Linked DNA regions of Homo sapiens. The protein of the gene in region 3 interacts with the protein of the main gene of each other region in a biochemical or structural test. Each region holds a gene or a part of one and is shown on either strand. Other genes may lie near its edges.

What was found.
Region 1: of the proteins of EZR (region 3) and CAPN1, one has a biochemical effect on the other in vitro, tested with the Homo sapiens proteins (one study listed by IntAct).
Region 2: the proteins of EZR (region 3) and CD44 form a complex in vitro, tested with the Homo sapiens proteins (one study listed by BioGRID).

Annotation. Positions count from the first base shown.
Region 1 is NC_000011.10:65,188,423-65,192,072, reverse strand, and holds part of CAPN1 (calpain-1 catalytic subunit), read right to left. Parts: coding exon 3,585-3,650; intron 3,488-3,584; coding exon 3,327-3,487; intron 1-3,326. UniProt on the Homo sapiens protein: Calcium-regulated non-lysosomal thiol-protease which catalyzes limited proteolysis of substrates involved in cytoskeletal remodeling and signal transduction. Proteolytically cleaves CTBP1 at 'Asn-375', 'Gly-387' and 'His-409'.
Region 2 is NC_000011.10:35,229,475-35,232,990, reverse strand, and holds the end of CD44 (CD44 antigen isoform 1 precursor), read right to left. Parts: 3' UTR 589-3,516; downstream 1-588. UniProt on the Homo sapiens protein: Cell-surface receptor that plays a role in cell-cell interactions, cell adhesion and migration, helping them to sense and respond to changes in the tissue microenvironment.
Region 3 is NC_000006.12:158,770,799-158,774,448, forward strand, and holds part of EZR (ezrin), read right to left. Parts: intron 610-3,650; coding exon 446-609; intron 97-445; coding exon 1-96. UniProt on the Homo sapiens protein: Probably involved in connections of major cytoskeletal structures to the plasma membrane. In epithelial cells, required for the formation of microvilli and membrane ruffles on the apical pole. Along with PLEKHG6, required for normal macropinocytosis.

The DNA.
Region 1 (3,650 bases), on a different chromosome or scaffold from region 3:
TTGTAGAGATGAGGTCTCACTGTATTGCCCAAGCTGTTCACAAATTCCTGGGACCATTTTAATAAATAAAAGAAAAAAGCATACTATCATCATAATATAGACAATTCAAAGTATTTAACAATATTAAACTTCATTAGTCTGATAAAAGGTATCCACAAAAAACCTAGATTAGAAAGGTACTTAGTGGTGAAAACTTCCCCTTTAAGAGTGAGGCTTAGTTAATAGGGTTGCTCCTAAAAATAAGAATAAAAAAAAGGGAGGAACAAGAGCAGGAAGCTCTACAGTTCTAGGCAGCATATTAGACAAGAAAAAGTAACAAAAGTTGTAAGAATTAGAAAAGAAGAAACAATCTGTCATTATTTGCAGATGCTATATTCCTAATTAGAAAACCAAAAAGGGCTGGACGCAGTGGCTCACTGTAATCCCAGCACTTTGGGAGGCCAAGGCAGGCAGATCACCTGAGGTCAGGAGTTCGAGACCACCCTGGCCAACATGGTGAAACCCTGTCTCTAATAAAAATACAAAAATTAGCCAGGTGTGGTGCCGCACGCCTGTAATCCCAGCTACTCGGGAAGCTGAGGCACGAGAATCACTTGAACCAGGGAAGCAGAAGTTGTAGTGAGCTAAGATCGTGCCAAAAAATACATACAGATGAATCAGTAAGATTAATTAGTTTTAAAAAATTTGCTGGATATAAAAACTACATCTAAAAGGTCAAATGCATGTTATCGTATGAGCAACAAGATCACTTGGGAGATGTAATTTTAAAGAACATACTATTTATAATAGAAACAAAATTATAGTGTACCTAGCATTAAATCTCAAGAGATGTATAAATTCTTTATGATAAAAAATACAACATTCTATTGAAAGACATTAAAGGCCAAAATAAATGAAGAGATACACCATATCCTTGGATAAGACTTAAAATTATAAAAATGTCAAGTCTCCCCAAATTGGTCTATAGGTTTCATGTAATTCCAAATTAAAATCTCAAAATGGTTTTTCAAAAGACTTGGTAAACTGATTCTAAAATTCATTTGGAAAAACAGAGGTCAAGAACAGCTAAGACAGATGCAGTGGCTCACGCCTGTAATCCCAGCAATTTGGGAGGCTAAGCCAGGTGGATCACTTGAGTTTGAAACCAGCCTGGCCAACATGGTGAAACCCCGTCTCTACTAAAAATACAAACATTAGCTGGATGTGGTGGCGGGCACCTGTAATCACAGCTACTCAGGAGGTTGAGGCAGAAGCATCATCTGAACCCAGGAGGCAGAGGTTGCAGTGAGCCGAGATCGCGCCACTGCACTCCAGCCTGGGCAACAGAGCAAGACTCCGTCTCAAAAAACAAAAACAAAAACAAAAAAAACCAACAACAAAAAAAACAGCTAAGAGACTCTTGAAGAAGGAATTTGCCCTGTCCAACAGCAGGACTTACACATCTGTAGTAATGGATTCAATGTGTTATCGGCAGAGGGATAGACCCAGGGACAGAATGGTGAGTCCAGAAACAGACCAACACATACCTCAGGACTACTTGAGGGCGCTAGTGCTGCTGGGGAGAGACGAGATGATGTATTTCTCAATAAATGGTACAGGGAACGGTGGTTATCTATTTGGGGAAAGACTGAAATTGGATCCCTACAAGGGAGAAGAATGCTTCAAAACAGAGGGCAGGGAGCCGTGCTGAGGATGCAGCACAGGAGGACAGAGCAGCGGCGGATCTGGCAAGGCCAAAGCTTAAGTGACCTTTGAGAGGGTGGTTTTAGCAGCATGGTAGGGATGAAGCTGGACTGGGAAGGGTTAAGCAATGAAGCAGAAGTGAGAAAGGAAATAGGGAGTATGGTAATTCCTGATAAATTGTGCTTTGAAGGAGGGCGGAGAAATGAACAGGGAAGTGGGGTCGAGAGGGTTGCTTTGTGTTAAGACAGAGGACTCTCCGTAATGACACTGGAGAGAGAGGTGACAGATGAAGGAGCAAATGCTTTCAGAGGTGAGGGAGAATGGGATCTGGAGCAGACGTGGGGGTCCCCATGAACAGGGACTGTTCTGCCACTGTCGCAGGTGGGGAGGCGATGAGGACACAGGCACAGGTGCAGAAGGCTGGGGGATTTGGAGGTGGGAACACAAGGTGTCCTGCAGGATGAAGTCTATCTTTTCAGTGAAGTGCAAGGCCAGGCCCGAAGGTGAGAGTAACAGTGGGGAGATATCGAGGTGAGAGTGGAAATGTTACTAACCAGTAGTGGAATTGCTGGGGATTATGGAAAATGCTCATTTGAGATTTGTGGCTAAGAATTTACAGGGAAAATATGGCATCGGTTATGTGATTTCTCTCCTGCCACACTCAATGGTTCCCAAGCCAGTGGAGATGGGTTTTGTGCCAGATGATGGGAGACAGGGGCCAGGGAACTGAAAGTGTTTGTAGGAACAAGATTAAAATGATAGCTCTAACCTAGGTAAGGAGAGAAGGCAAGATGGGAGAGGCAGGATGGTACGCAAGTGATGGGTTCAACGGACTGGCTTGGTCGAAGGGTTGAAGACTAAGGGAGTGGAAAGAGTCGAAGGTGGAGGTCAGAGAGCGGGTGTTTGCAAGACAAGGCAGCTCTGGTGCCCTCATGGTGGGGGCTGAGCTAAGGTAGAGAAAAAGCGTGCTGCAGTGAGAGTGACAAGGAACTGAGAGGCCAGGCTGTGGCCCACATCAGCCACATGGATCTAGAAGCCCAGGGAAAGGTGGCAAGAGAAGGCAAGAAGGGACCTGGCACAGTGGCGCACGCCTGTAATCCCAGCACTTTGGGAGGCCAAGGTGGTCGGATCACCTGAGGTCAGGAGATCGAGACCAGCCTGGCCAACATGGAGAAACCCTGCCTCTACTAAAAATACAAAAATTAGCTGGGTATGGTAGGTGCCTGTAATCCCAGCTACTCGGGAGGCTAAGGCAGGAGAATTGCTTGAATCCGGGAGATGGAGGTTGTAGTCAGCCAAGGCCACGCTACTGCACTCCAGCCTGGGCAACAGAGTGAGACTCTGTCTCAGAAAAAAAAAAGCGAAGGCAGGAGGGAAGGGCCCAGGAAAGGAGTGACAGGCAGGTGGCTGGATGGCCACAAGATCTTTGCCCCTCATGAGCACCCTGGGCTCAGGCCCCAAGACGGTGAGTCAAGCATGCCTCTTTAAAATTTACTAGGACATTTAATATTTTACTCCTCAAAGCAAATTCAAGAGATCAGCCTATATCTTGCAAGTGAGGAAACGGAGGCTCAGTAAGATGACGTGCCTTCTGGAGCCCCTAAGCCAGGAAGCAGCAAGACCCAGAGCCCGCCCCTGTGCACCTGGGTAGTTTCGGCAGCCCCCCGCGGTGCTCCCCCGCCGCCAGGTGCCTTCGTAGAGTGTGGTGTTCCATTTGCGGATGGTCCGGCTCTTGAGGGCGTCGGGTGTGAGGTTGCAGATCTCCAGGCGGGTGAACTCCCGCATGAAGTCTCGGAATGACATCCTGAGGTGGGAGGTACACAGGTGAGGCACAGCCCGTCAGGGCACAGAGCTGATGTGTAGGGGTGGAGAGGTGGGGTAGAAGGGGAGGGGGCGCTCACCAGAACTCCCCGTCCTCCATCTTGACCCGGAGCTGGTCCCGTTCATATGGGTCCACGTTGTTCCAC
Region 2 (3,516 bases), on a different chromosome or scaffold from region 3:
CTCATCTTCCCATTCATTTCCAGAATAGCTATTGAGCCTTTTGATGGTTCTGTCACATAAGTCTGGTTGTTTCTCAATTTTCCACACTGCAGGCTTAGGAGTCAGCTTTTCCAGACTTGTTCATTCAGTTACCAATCAGCTATCACTTTTCAGCTTCAAGTTTTTGTTGCTCTTGTCTCTTCTTCCAATCTCTTTAACTCCACTGGTTGATTCCGTCTGGAAATATCTCTTTATTTTCTTTTTAGAGGCTTACATGAGGGAATGAAGGTATGTACACTCTCCTCTCTTTAACTGGAAGTCCAGGAGTAGTTCTTGGCTTTAAAAGAACTAACACTTCACTGTATCTCACTTAGTTTGAAACATGTGAACCACACATCACTCATAGAAAACCAGATTTTCTCCAAAAGAAGACTTTCAAGTTGATGGAAACCCATTTTGTTTTTGCTTTTTTAAAAAATAAAATGAGTGTGAGGCTTCAGCCACCTCAGATACCTTTGACTTTGTTCCTCTAAATTACCCAGACGGTGCCAGATAAGCATAGTTCTGTCCCTCTCAGCCTCCCATTCTTTTAAATTAGAGACTTCTGAGTCTGTTTCCTTTAGTCTTTTAATGTTAGCCTTTTAATATTTTCCAATAAGTGCTTTCAACTCAGCAATATACATATCATGCTTTCCTCATTATTATTGATCCATCAATAAATATACAAAAACCAGAGGAAGGGTGTGCTCTGAAAAGTCAAAGTAACAATAACAGTGGTCATTGTACAGCACAAGAATGAACAATGGGCTATTCTTTGAAAACTCAAAACAAATGATTTACACAAAGACATATCTATAACATAAAGGTGAATGGACCATGTTATTCTTATTCTTAAGTACATTTTGCTTTTCCAGATAAGTCAAATGTTTCCTCTCTCCTACTCCTCTGATATAACAGTATTGAATGAATGTTGGCTACAAAATCAATTCTTGGTGTTGTTATGAATCTCAATATAAAACTTTTGGAAAGGTTCTGCTAGAAAAGCCAATTCTACCAGGCTTGAAATATGGATTCGAAGATGTCTTTTGTCTCTTTTGATTTTTCACTCAGAGCTAATTTTAAGGGAAGTCTTCAGGAGACACAAAAGATTTACAATTGCAAGAAAAATTACATCTTTAGCTCTTAGGTTGCTTTGCAAAATAATTAAATGTTGGCCTTTTACTTTTATAAAGACCCAGTTTAAATGACTTAGCCCAGGTCACCTGAAAATCATTGGTAAAAATGACGTGTAGTCAAGCTGTGCTTCCAGAGTTACGCCCTTGAGATCAAGGGAGTGAGAATACATCTTATTCCATAAACTTCAGGCAATGTTGCAAGGGTTTGTGAAGACTTGGCCAGCTCTCCGTTGACAATGGCCAAGGAATAGAAGCTCTAGACCTCCCTTATTTCTATCGTGAAAACAGAGGTATATCCAAGTGAGGGACTACAACAGTAATAAAGGGAAAAAAGTATTTAATTCCAAAATAAAATTGAAAATAACCTCCTGTCTCAGCCTCTTTTTGGGAATATCTAGAAGGAGTGGAAAACCATCTCTGGCTATGAGACTTGTATCACTACCCCTTTCTCCCTGGGGCGACAGGTAGAGGCTGTTGTAACCATTTTGAACCTTGTCCTGGAGTGGCTTGTTGCTTTTCAGTTAAAGAGCTTGAGTGAGCCTGTCTGGGCCTCTGGCAGACCCAGGAAATCTCTGGGAAAACAAGAGGCACTTGAACACTAGTGGCAGTAACAACACATAGTGGCCTAATGTCCAGTTTCTTTCAAGTTGAAAAGAAAATAAAAAGAAATCCAGACCACTGAAAATGGATCTGGCCAATGATGTTCACAGAAGAGAAAGGAAGTTTTTCAAGATTGTGGGGTGAAGTGGAGGGAGAGAGGGAGGGGAGAGGGTAGACAGGGAGGAGCAGAGGCTGGGAATAGTGCAGAAAGTTGACATCTCTCCTTTAAAGATATTCTACAGATCAACTCTGTCTAAGCCCAGCCCTGATTTAGTCAGGAGCTTTTCTTCTTCTTTCTGCTTTGTGGTCTGAGAAGCATTGCCTGTTAAGCACATAAGTTTAGGTAACAAATGACTTTTAGTAGGAGCCTCAGAAAGGAGATACCATTTAACAGGAGCCGTTGCTTTATAGATGCAATGGCTTCTATGACAAGCAGCCTTTGGAAGTTCTAGGACCAATCGGACACCCTGACTGATGAATAAATGCCACAAAGGACTTGCCAAGTGGGAGAAAATATGAGGTTAGAGGATAAAGCCAGTACTCTCTTGTTTGGTCATAAACTTGCCTATCTGGTGATAAGATTCCAATGATGGGAATCCCTTTAACCTTTTGAGGGACTCCCCAGGCACTTAACTCATCCTAAATAGCAACTGCATCAAGAACAGACACTGGTGTGTTTAAGTTTACAAATACAGCCATAAAAATGTCAAACAGGATCTACATGGCATCATCCTTCCCCTTTGCCAATCTCTTTCATTTCCATTGGCTTCTTCTCTTATTGTAAGACATCAAAAGGCACTTCCATATTGTTTTTGGAAATCACTAATAGGGCCAGCCTCTATGAAATAGGGCCCCAGGGATAACAGGTCATGCAAACTTAATGTGACTTTGCAAAGCCTTTCACAGGAGAGAACAGGTGGCCATTAAACCATAAAAGAGGCTGAAGCTCCTCAGCTTCCAACTCTGATTCCAGGACAGGATGGAAAACCTTTGGACAGTGTCAAAAAAAAAAAACAAAAAACAAAAAACAAAAACAGTGCTGCCCTCCTTGGTCTTCCATGAGATTTGGCTGAGTGGGTCTGAGTGGGAACTCAGGGTCTCTGAGATGAAGACTTAGAAGAGTCTCCTTACCATTCTCAGCTCTTCCTGATACATTGTAGGGACCCAGACAGTGCTGGTTTAGAAACTGAAGAATCACAGCACAAAAGGTGAAGATCGAAGAAGTACAGATATTTATTATGAATCAGTTTAAACCCTTTTGTGCCTCTGACAAAGTAACTTTAAAAAATTATACTGATCAAAGGACTGATCCAGGGTTTAATATTTCAAAAACACAGATAAATAGTTTACTACAGATAAATAGCTTCACCCTTTGGGTGTCTCCCAGAAGCATCTGAAAAATTTCTAGAGGGGGTCTGTTGAAGATGTGTAACTAGTACACCCCAACCCCCAACCTCAGTGGAAAGCAATGCCCAGGGATTAGGCTATGGAAGGGCAAAATGGACCCATTCAAATTTCCTCCCAGGGACCAGGCCCTATTAACCCTGGGAAATGTCCTTAGCTGGTGGGGGAAAGGTTGGCGATCAGGAATACATATGTGTAGTTTTTGTTAGAAGCCATCCATAGCACACCCGAGGGATGAAAGGCCTCCAAGTGGGAACTGGAACGATCAAATTCTTGCTGATTATTAATTGGGCCCTAATTTCAGAAAGCAATGCTGTTTTTACAAATTGGACCTGACTTTAAAGAACAAAACACAAAA
Region 3 (3,650 bases):
TGCAGCCGCAGCATCAACTCCTCCTTCTCGCGCATCATCTGCTCTTTCTCTCTCTCCACGGTTTCTCTCCTTTTCTTCTCTGTTTCCAGCTGTTGCCTGGTGCAGGGAAAAAGAGGCACAGGGAGATTTAGACTCTGGCAGGAAAGTGAGGGGTCAACACACTTCACGGGTACTTGAAGCTCCAGGATGGACTTGGTATCCTGAGGGCCACCCTAGCCTGCTGCCAGCCTGAGCTGCCTGACGGAGCAGCCGCTCCAGGGCTGACAACAGGCTCAGCACCACAGCAACCGCCCAGAGACAAAGGCCTCGAAGATCCCAGCGTGGTGACTGGGTTCCATTCCACCACACTCTCCCCATCAGCTCCACAGTCACCTGACAGGCACTGGCTGCCAGTGGCTGAGTTGGGAGAACACAGGCCCCCCCCACTCTGGCCTCACGCGCTCACCGCTCCAGCTGCTTCTGATGCTTCTCCTCCCGGGCCTGGGCCTTCATCTGCTGCACCTCGATGGTGTCAGGCTTCCTGCGGCGCATATACAACTCATGGTTGCCCATGCAGAGCTGCAGGATCCGCTTGTTGATTCTCAGACGTGGGGCATAAAACACAAAGTCCTACAAAACAGAACAGGGCCACCTGGACTCAAGCTCCTTCGTTTGGTTTTCTTCTCCAAACCATCCTTCACAAAGGTCCAGAACTTTTCTAAAAGAACAAATGTAGCAGAACAGGGATGGCAGCATCTCGGCACTAGGAATGTGCATTCTCCAGGACAGATGGAGGAAGGGCACGTGCCGCGTGTGTGTGCGGTTATGTGTGGGTATGTAGCACTGGGAAAGTGCATTCTCTGGGACGGGTGGAGGAAGGGCAGGTGCCGCGTGTGTGTGCAGTTGTGTGTGGGTAGGGACATCCTGCATGCACACTGAAATGCCACTGCACGTTAACTGCAAAGCTTTTCCAAGGTGAGAACTCTCAGCCTTGGGAAACCTTTCAAGTCTCAGAGCTGCCTGCTCTTCCAGGTAGCCACCTTTCATGATGTCCTCTCCAGCCTCACTGCTGCTCCCCATCCCCGATGCTTGCCTGGACTGCCTCTGCTGCTATTTGGGCTTCCTGTCTCCTCTGCCACAGCCTCCCCTCCCACACTGTTATTGCTACACTGACTGGGTCACCACCCCGACCCATCACTGCCAGCCTGGGAGCTCCAGGATGAGCTCCAGGGCCTGGGCCCAACCCACACAGAGACCTTCCAGCTCTGGGCCCAGCCTCCGCTGTGCACTCGGTTCTCTCTCCTCAAAGCTATCCAGCCCTGCTCCTGCCACACCAGCTACAGGTACTCGCCGCAGTGGCACTGTCACTTCACTCCAGTGACTCCTTTCAGCATCTCACTCCTATGAGGCCATCAGCTCCCAAGGGCAGGGGCCACACATTCACTCATCTCTTATCTTCCCAGGGTATTTGAGGTGTGCAGTACCTGCCAGGCACTGCCAGCTCGTGCAGCACAGACAGCCACGTGCGAGCTCCACAGCCTTGAGCACATCCCTTCACCAGGCTCAGTGCCTTCAACCATAAGGCAGGGATGCCGGTATCTCAAGGGACTTCAGATATGGGACTCAATCCTCCCAGCAGTCCCATTAGATGCTGGCGTCCCCGCCTTATCGGTGACGTTCAGGAGGTGCTCGGCGCAGGAAGAGCTGGCTGACACACACAGCGGTCACTCCAATTGCTAGTGCCTTGCAAGACCACAACCAGAGGAGCCTCCTGGAAAACAAGGCAGAATCACAGCCTTCGGGAAACTCGTGACCATGACTGGAAACATTTGGGACACAGCTGACAATCTTGGTCCCAACTCCTTGCTACTGCTGTGATTAGCTTACAAGACAGAAGAATATGGTTTAGAAACTCCCATGAAAAGTTATTTTTCAGTGACTCTGTTGGCTTCCTCTTAACCTCAGGGCCCCCAGCATCCAGCTTCTGACCATTTGGAACAGAGGGACAGGGTGGCTAAAACAAAAAAACAGTGCGATATATCCCACAGCAACTTCTGAGACCTAACGAGGAACCGGCTGAGCGGGCTCATCAACACATCCGAGAAGAATCTATTTAGCTTCAGTCTTTTCATCTGTTCCAGAAATCCTAGGGTGAGAGGTGATGCCAAGCCCTGAGAGCCCATGAACTTCCTGGGTGGGGCTGTCTTTGGGGTTTCACACCCTTGCTGTTAAGTCATTGGGTTTCCCAGGGAGGAGTCTGTGGAGCTGGGAGCAATCGGCATTTTTATGACCCACCTATCCCTTATTACACAAGAGGAAACAATCCTGCATTACAGCTTTGGAGGACTCTACCAAATAGGCCCTGACTCAGAAAACGCTGATTAGCACCAACTCCCCTTTATGGGGTTGTGGGGGTGCATGGGTGGGGGGATCAATGAAAAACCTCAATGGTTAACATAACAATGTCTCCCTCTCTCCCTTTCCCTGCAGAAGACAGGTCCTGCCAGCAACGGGAACCAGAATTTGGGGAGTCCACTGCCAGTGGGTGAGGGAGGATGGTGCCTGGCAGGAAATCTCTCCCAGTGCCTTTGAAGGAAGCCGGTTTCTCACTTCAAGTTAAAACAAAGACTCATACTGAAATGTTTCTAAATCCAAGTCCCTAACCTGATGCAGGATGCAGCTTCCTGATGCAGAACCACAACACGACAAGACCTGGAGCAGGGTTTTTAAACTGGCCGAGGACCAGCAAGGTAAAAATGCAAACCAGGCACAAGGAAAGTTCAAGAAAAATAAACCCAAGACCCTACAAATACAGAAGGAGAGAAGGTAAAAGAGCCCCTTTTCAAGTCCCCAGGATGCCAGGAAACTCTCCCACAAGAGGCCAATCCCAAGGCTCATCTGGCCGCAGAGATGGCAGGAGGCAGCCGCGGGAGGCAAAAAGGCAGCGGGGCTCCTGGGAAGGTCACGTGGGGGAAGCGTCCGAGGAGTCAGAGCGGAAACGCTGCTTACTTTCTCCAAATTTCAGATGCCTCAGAGCCTTCTGCCTTTTCCACAAGGCCACAGGAACAAAACGCCCTTTTGAAAGGGAAAAGGCAGCCGCCTCAGCCCCTCATAGTGTCACCTGGGCAGGCCGTGTCAGCTGTATACAAGGTCCCATCTAAAGAGCCAAAGTGTGGCCCCAAACTGCTGTATGCACCTTGGCAGGGAAGAGAAGCTGGCTTTTAAAAAGGAGACGCCAGTTGTTGGGTGAGAACTGGACAAAGACTCATTTGTGAGTTCACAGCAGAAACCGCCTGGGGTGAAGATGACCCGTGAAAGTCAACACAAGATAAGGAATCCCACCGCCTCAAACTTTGGGCCTCTTCTTTTTTACAAGAAAGTTCGATGTCGAAAACTTGAACTTCTTCTGCCCAAAGTTTACAGACTGAGGTGGGGCAGTGCCTCGAGCAGCCCTGGGGTGCTGTGGGGGTGACAGAACTCCACCTCCTCAAACCAGCAGTGCCCACTCAAGGCAAATGCTGCCTCCTCAGTGTGGCTCCTGCCCAACCTGCCTAAAGGAATCTCACCCCCATCTTCTGATCCGGCTTAGTTTTTAATCACAGCTGTACTGTTAAATTTACTACCAGGAAGCATCTCAGTTGCCTTTTTAACCCTTTCCTTCACGTAAATGT